Homo sapiens: one gene and its partner. The protein of the gene in region 1 interacts with the protein of each later gene in a biochemical or structural test. Each region holds a gene or a part of one and is shown on either strand. Other genes may lie near its edges.

Region 1 (4,037 bases):
AAACCTTAATAGCCACCCACCATCTGACATCCAGATTACAATATTATTGACATTTCTTTCCCTGTTGAGTGGATATAGGAAGAAACAAACTCAGTTTCTTCCTGCTATACTGTCACAACATACTTCTATGACCAAATGTATGGGGCTTTTTCCCACACACCAAGCAAGCAAGCAGTTCTGCAGAGGGCACACAGTGTCCTCTAACTCAGTTTGATTCTGATACTATCTACCTGGAAACAGCATCAGATCCCACAGTTTGAGGGCTCAATCCCACAAGACTTTCCCCCATTTCAGACACCAATCACAAGTAATAGTTTGTCACCTACACCTCTGACCAAGTGGCTATAAATTGGTGTTCCCACTACCCTCTCCTTGGACTCAACTGATTTGCTAGAGCAACTGACAGAACTCAGGAAAACACCTACATTTACTGGTTTATTTTAAAGGATATTATAAGGGATACCAATGAACACCAGATGGAAGAGATGCATAGGGCAGGGTCTGTGGGAAGGGTGGCAGAGCTCCCATGCCCTCCCAACGTGCACCACCCTCCAGGAACCTCTAAATGTTCAGCTGCCCGGCAGCTCCCCACACCCAGTCCTTTTGAGTTTTTAATGGAGGCTTTATTATGTAGGCATGATTGATTACATCATTGGCCACTGGTGATTAGTTTAACTTTTAGCCCCTCATCTCCTGGAGGTTGGGGCGTGGGACTGAAAAATCCTATCCTCTAATCATACCTTGGTCTGTCCTGTGAGCAGCCCCCATCCCGAAGCTTCCAGGGGTTCCCCAACCACTAATCATCTAATAAGCATACAAAAAACACTCTTACCACTCTGGAGATCTCAAGGGTTTGGGGAGCTATATGTCAGGAAACAGGGATGAAGACCAAACATGTATTTCACTGTATCACACCTGTTCTCACCCCTCCCCAGATCTTCTCTCAATTAATATGAGACAAAAAAATGAGTCTGACTTCTTGACCAAAATATCAGTTCTGTCCTTAGCAGCTTTATGGAGGACAGATTTAGTTTAAATTCCTTAGGCATTATGCCCCTGTGGCTCCACTCAATCAGAAATAGGGTCAACGGCAAGGTCAGGGCCTCCAATCTGGGCAAGAGGGAGGCAGCCACGGTATCCACAAGTGTAATTCTCTGAGTGCTGGTTGCTGGGAGGGGCACACCCTGGGCCAGCAAGTCACTTGGCCAAGGGTGGCCAACTGTGAGGTAGCACTGCCCTTTACTCCCTAAAAAAATGTGAATCTCTTTGGAGCAAACTCCTCTTCAGAAATTTGAGCACTTGTTTTCTGAGCAAGGGAATCAGCTAATGCTTTTGACTCCCCATCCATCTTCCTGCATCCTCGTCCCACCTCTCCTGCCCCCACTCACCTGGCTCTGTCTTTACCCACACCATGGTTTTGGTACAAGAACACCCTTTTCCCCATAAGCTACATTGGTCCAGGCCATAAAAATTCATTAGTTCCCTTTCTTCAGGGGCCTTCTGAAATGCTCCCTGGAGAACTCTTTATTCACTTCTTTGCACAAGAATCACATATGTGTGAACACTGGTATTGGCCTTCTAACTCAGTTTCTTCAAACCAGGGTCCTGGTCTGGTTGCCCCTGTCTCCTCCCACTGAGTTTTATCTCCACATAAGTATTGCTCACCAAGAACAGAGCTGTTGACACCACTGGGCCTCAAGCATGCTGAATGCATTGCTGCCAACTGCTCTGCCTTAAGAAGGTTGGAAACTGATGAGGGTGCCACAAATTGTTCACCTCAGCCCTTCTGGGCTGGTTGGAGGAGGCCCTCTCATGAATCAGTCAGCAAATGTTTGACCCCTACCAGGTGGTCCTGGTAATATGTGGTATGAATCATGGTCCTAGATGTCTGCCATAGCAAATAAAAAAGGAAGACAGGGAAAGAAGCTGTCGCCTACAGAGTGGCTTGATGACAGCTGCCTCACTAATTTAAAAAGCCATGTGTAGTGCTTCCTATTTCTCACTATGTTTGGGTGAGTGGGAGAGGGAGAAAGATTATATGGGCTTCGTTGTGACACTGTTCTTAGCCAGTGGGTCAATAGATGAGTTTTGGTTTTGTTTTTTAGAAGACAGGATGAGAAGAGAGTGCCCCCTTCCACCTCCAACATGGCATGCCATGCTAGGTGCTGAAGGAGTTCTCTAAGCAGGGATGGAGCACCGTGCGTGTGTGTGTGTATATGTGCACGTGTGTGTGTACGTGTGTGTGTGTGGCAGGTCTAGAGGGTCGATGGCTCTTTCCTGCCTCTTGCCCTTGGTATGGGTACCTTAGTGATGCATCATGGCCCTCCCTTAGGACACACAGCTTCGCAGTGCCAGTGAACCCACTCCTTTTGGCTCCTCCTCTGGAATGATAAGCCCAGATGCCCATGCTGCCCGTGAAGGGCTTCTTCTTGAACTGAATGTGGAGGGCATCTCTGGTCCCGGCCATCTGCCAGTGACTCTCATGTGCATTCATGTCCCTCTCTTCTCTCTGTCCTGTCTTCTCTGCCGCTGCCTCTTCTCTGCAGGTACACTTGCTGAAGGACCAGTTGGCTGCTGAGGCTGCGGCGCGGCTGGAGGCCCAGGCTCGCGTGCATCAGCTTTTGCTGCAGAACAAGGACATGCTCCAGCACATCTCCCTGCTGGTCAAGCAGGTGCAAGAGCTGGAACTGAAGCTGTCAGGACAGAACGCCAGTAAGCCAGTGCCCTGCCCAGCCCTGCTTCCTCTGTGAAGGCTCTGGAAAGAGTGTCACTTTCCTTAAGTTTTTGGTGGTGCTTTCTTGGACCCCTGACCTACCCCTATATTCCAGCAGAAAACATAGGCAGCTTTGTTTTCCCATTAGTATACTTAATGAATTACAGAATCACATGCCCAAAGGAGATCTCGGGTGCCTTCTAATCCAGGCCCAGGGCTGGACTTTGAATGTCCCCGGAGTCACTGCTATGTGCTCATCCAGTCTCTATTTGATAGGGGCTCAGGTACTCTGTGTTCTAGGGCAGCCCATTTCTTTCTCAGAGAGCTTTTGCAATCAACAAACAGTATACTTGGCACCTATTGGGTGTCATGGTCTCTGTGAGCTCTGTGGGAGACAGCAGATTGTTTCTTAGTTTACTACTCTGCACTATGTATTTCAAGACTCTGTCACACAGAAAAAGCTGGGAGCAGTATATCTGTTCAGTGGATAAGGCAGTGGAATCTGGCTGCACTGCTCTGCTGGGCAATAGCAGAGGTTGCCTGGCCCCTGCTTGAGAAGCTGTCTCTACACTCAGTACCCCTGGGCTGGGCTGGGCAGCTGTAGATCGCAACACATTTTCACGCCTTCCTCTTGAGCCTTTCCGTGGGTTGTTTGCATGCTCAGAGTGTGTGTGGGCTGTGGACCAGCAAATAGCCATTGATCACATATTGTGCCAGAAACTGTGATAGAATTTTTTGCCTGTGAGCTCATTTAATCCCTGTAGTTCTGCTGCAGAAAAATGGGATGCCATTTTACAGATGAGGTAACAGACTCAGGGAGGTTAAGTAACTAGCTCAAGGTTATAGGCCTAGCAAGGAGCAGAGCCAAGATTCAAACCTAGATCTGATTGCAAAATTTTGTTCCAACTATACCAGTGGTTCCCCCAAACCATCCCATGAGCTCTTTTAAAAATGCGTCTTTCCTACTGAGATCCTACATCGTTCTGTCTAGGGCTGGTCTGGGAGCCTGTATTTTTAAAGTAGCCCAGAGGTGTGGATTGGAAACCAGTGCCCTTCACCACTCTGGAAGCCTCTCTGGATTTTCCAGATTGTTCATTGAAACTCTGCTCTATCCTAATTAATGCTTATTTACATGATTGTACTAAAGGTTACCACAGGCTTCTAACATGGTTCTCTCAATTGGTACCTTTTTCCTACCACTAACCCTATTCAGAGCCTTCAGTGGCTACCAGAACCATCATATGGTTCTTATGTCCCCGCCTTTACCACGTCCCAAAGCTCCTCCCCTCCAGCGAGGTGTGTCTGGAGCTATGTGGGGGCGGGA
Region 2 (3,500 bases), on another chromosome or scaffold:
TCGGCTCACTGCAACCTCCACCTCCCAGGTTCAAGCAACTCTCCTGCCTCAGCCTCCTGAGTAGCTGGGACTACAGGCACATGCCACCATGCCCAGCTAACTTTTTGCATTTTAGTAGAGACAGGGTTTCCCCATGTTGCCCAAGCTGGTCTTGAACTCCTGAGCTCAGGCAATCTGCCTACCTCCGCCTCCCAAAGTGTTAGGATTACAGGCATGAGCCACCGCGCCAGGGCGAACTGTGTATTTTTAGGAAAGCTACTCATGTAATTAGGGGAAGAAAAGAAAGAAAGAAAAGAAAAGAAGGAAAAGAAAAGAAGAAAAGAAAAGGAAAGAAGGAAGGAAAGAAGGAGGGAAGGAGAGAGAGAGAGAAAGAAGGAAAGAAGAAAGAAAGAGAAAGAAAGAGAGACAGTAAGAAGGAAAGAAGAAAGAAAGAAAGAGAAAGAAAGAAAGAAAGAGAGAGAGAGAAAGAAGGAAGGAAGGAAGGAAGAAAAAGAGAAAGAAAGAAAAGAAAGAAAGAAAGAAGAAAGAAAGAAAGAGAAAAAAGAAAGGGAGGAAGGGCAGGGAGTGCACAGAGGGGAGAAAGGAAAGAAGGAAGGAGAAGGAAGGGAGGGAGGGAGGGAGAAGGAAGGAAGGAAAGAAAACTGCCTCAACAAATCAACTTTGTCTATTCTCTATCTGTACACTAATACAACTTTTATCATAGTAATAACGCAACACATATTTATATATTCTTACTTAGACTTAAATTATTTTCTAACCACTCTCCAAGTAGCTGCATGATCTTTTAAATCCTCTCTTTTAAAAAAAGCTATTTAAACATTAGAACATAATGCAGTTTACTATAGTAGTTAAAAAGGATAATTTTAAAGGAAATAATAAACATTATGTTTAGCTCTATCAAGATATACAAACAATATGTTCTATCTCTTTGTTACAATTTTTGACAAAGATTATGCAATTCATGATCTGCTATTTTGTGTAAAAATATGTCTTGAGATTTTTTTCTATGACAGTTAATGTTCCTTAAAAACACTGATAACTTTTTGATAGATTTCATCTATCCCATCATTTGCTTGTATTCATTGAGTCCACTTTAAAATTTTACATTTAGTTTTTTCCCCCACTTGTTATTGCTATCAGGCATATCACAACAATCATTATTTGAATGGTTTAATAGAAAATTAAATGTTTGCTATATACCAGGTAACCTCAGCACTTGTTATGTGGCTGAGAAAAATGCAGAAAAAGCCACTGCTTTCATTGAGCTTGCATTTTATTAGGTGATATGATGTTAAGTAAATCAATAAAGAAGACAAAAATAGTAAGTAAATAAATGAGACAAAATAATAATATGTAGGAAGGACTGATATTTGCTCAGACTTTTATGCAAATTCTTATTTCCTTTAGTCTAAATTCTGAGCTTTGGAAACCCCATGTGGAAAAATATTTTAATGTATTCAAGATATTAAATCCATGTGTACAAATTGCCTCCTACAAGTCATCTTAACTTATGCGGCCATCAGAAGTGTCTATGAGAGTGCCTGTATATTTACATTCTGACCAAATTAAAATCAAAGACTACTTCTCATTTTAACTTTCTATATACAATTTTCTATAAGCCTTAGTTTACTTGAATTTTTTTAATACTTCAAGTTCTGGGATACATGTGCAGAACGTACAGTTTTGTTACGTAGGTATACATGTACCATGGTGGTTTGCTGCACCTATCCACCCATCATCTAGGTTTTAGGCCCTGCATGTATTAGGTATTTGTCCTAATGATGTCTCTCCCCTTGCCCCCAACCTCCCAACAGGCCCTGGTGTGTGATGTTCTACTTGGGAAAATGTTTACATAGGTTAGTGAGGCCTGGCGATAAGTATTCTCATACATCAAATACAATGTAAATCTACCTTCAATTGTTGTATGTAATCAAGGAAGTCCCCCTCCCCTTAGTAAGTACAATGCTGGTGCTTTATGCTTTGTGGCTTGACATTAGACATATAAAGCCATCCTTCAAGCATTCCTTTTCCCAAAGGAAAATTTCATGTAGCATGAGAACAGAGGAGTGGCTTCTAGATTCGATGCTAATGGATTATTTTCCTGCATGCAGATTACCTTCTGGCCTTCTCCTGTGTCAGGATCACTGGTTGATAAGGAAGCCAGTCAGATAGGTGGGGCAGGTGAGCAAATAAGAAGGGGCATCTTCTACAGCCTAAATCAGAGGGGGAGTCTTCTACAGCCCAGCCCTCTCCTGCCATGAGGTATCACTTCTGATGCAAGCTGTGCAAGTTGTAGACTTCTGCCTCCAGAAAATGGATCCCTCAGGTGAGGCTAATTAAAAGTCAGATTTGAATGTCTGGATCACAGAAGAACTTGCCTGTGACCATTAATCAGGAAAATCCTGTCCCTTCTGATGTGTTCATAATGAAGCTACACCAGTAATAACAAAAATGAAGCAATAAGGTTTATCTGGTACATATAGTTTATATGTATGTGCCAGGTGTTGTCCTAAGTGCTTAGTATATGAATTCAGTTTGTATTTACAGCACCACTATCTGTCAGTTATTGTTATTCCCATTTTAGAGATTTGGAAACTGAGGCAAAAAGCAGTTTAAGTAAATAGCCTAAGGTCACACAGCTAGTAAATATCAGAGCTAAAGATATGAATCTTGCAATGTGTCAAAATTCTGTGCTCTTGCACATGATACTACACTGTCTCTGTCTCTCAGCGTAAATATTGATAATTTGGGAAAAAAGATGGGAACCAGAGAGCCAGCCTGGTACTGATGAGAGAGCAAAGGTTTCAGAAAAAGGAATTTGGCAACAAATGCCACTTCTGTTACTAAAACATTACCCTTTATGAGTGTATTGGGCACTATGAACTTCAGTTCTTCATCTGTGAAATGCAGCTATGGATGCAGAGGGTGCTGTGAAGATTAGGAATTGGTTAACTGATTTGTGAATGCATTTTTGTCTGTTAATTCATATCAGTTACTTCGAGTACCTTCTATGTGCCAAGCACTCCACTAGGTATTAAGGATAAATACAACAGTATAAGAGAGTTGAACTCACAAAAATTCCAGCTGATGAAGGAGTTTAGGAAGGGCATTTTGGAGGAGGCTTTTAATGAACTGAAACCTAAGTGACTGTGAAAGGGCTCCACAGAGGAAGATGTGTCATGGCAGGGGTTGGAGTCCAGCCAGTAGGAGGGGAGGAGCAACCTGGTCCAAGGAATAATGTATAAACTTGCCCAGAGCTACAAAGAAGTATGTGTCCCTTCAACAAGGCAAACAAGTTTGTTACAGCTGTAGTCATCTTGGGTATGAGGTTGGTGTTGGTGTTTGGATGGAACAGATCATAGGAAAAGGCCTTAATAAAGCACATGAACTTTATCTGAGGAACAAAGGACAGCCACTAAAGCATGTCAAGCATAGGGAGGGACTGAGGTTGCCCATTTAAAAATCCTCTTCGAATGCAACGTGAGATGGAGATGAAGGGG

Evidence for each region.
Region 2: the proteins of NOS1AP (region 1) and SNTG1 interact in a test that uses a peptide from one of them, tested with the Homo sapiens proteins (one large-scale study listed by IntAct).

The regions. Positions count from the first base shown.
Region 1 is NC_000001.11:162,362,858-162,366,894, forward strand, and holds part of NOS1AP (carboxyl-terminal PDZ ligand of neuronal nitric oxide synthase protein), read left to right. Parts: intron 1-125; exon of another isoform or gene 126-2,492; coding exon of another isoform or gene 2,493-2,546; coding exon 2,547-2,712; intron 2,713-4,037. UniProt on the Homo sapiens protein: Adapter protein involved in neuronal nitric-oxide (NO) synthesis regulation via its association with nNOS/NOS1. The complex formed with NOS1 and synapsins is necessary for specific NO and synapsin functions at a presynaptic level.
Region 2 is NC_000008.11:50,659,907-50,663,406, forward strand, and holds part of SNTG1 (gamma-1-syntrophin), read left to right. Parts: intron 1-3,500. UniProt on the Homo sapiens protein: Adapter protein that binds to and probably organizes the subcellular localization of a variety of proteins. May link various receptors to the actin cytoskeleton and the dystrophin glycoprotein complex.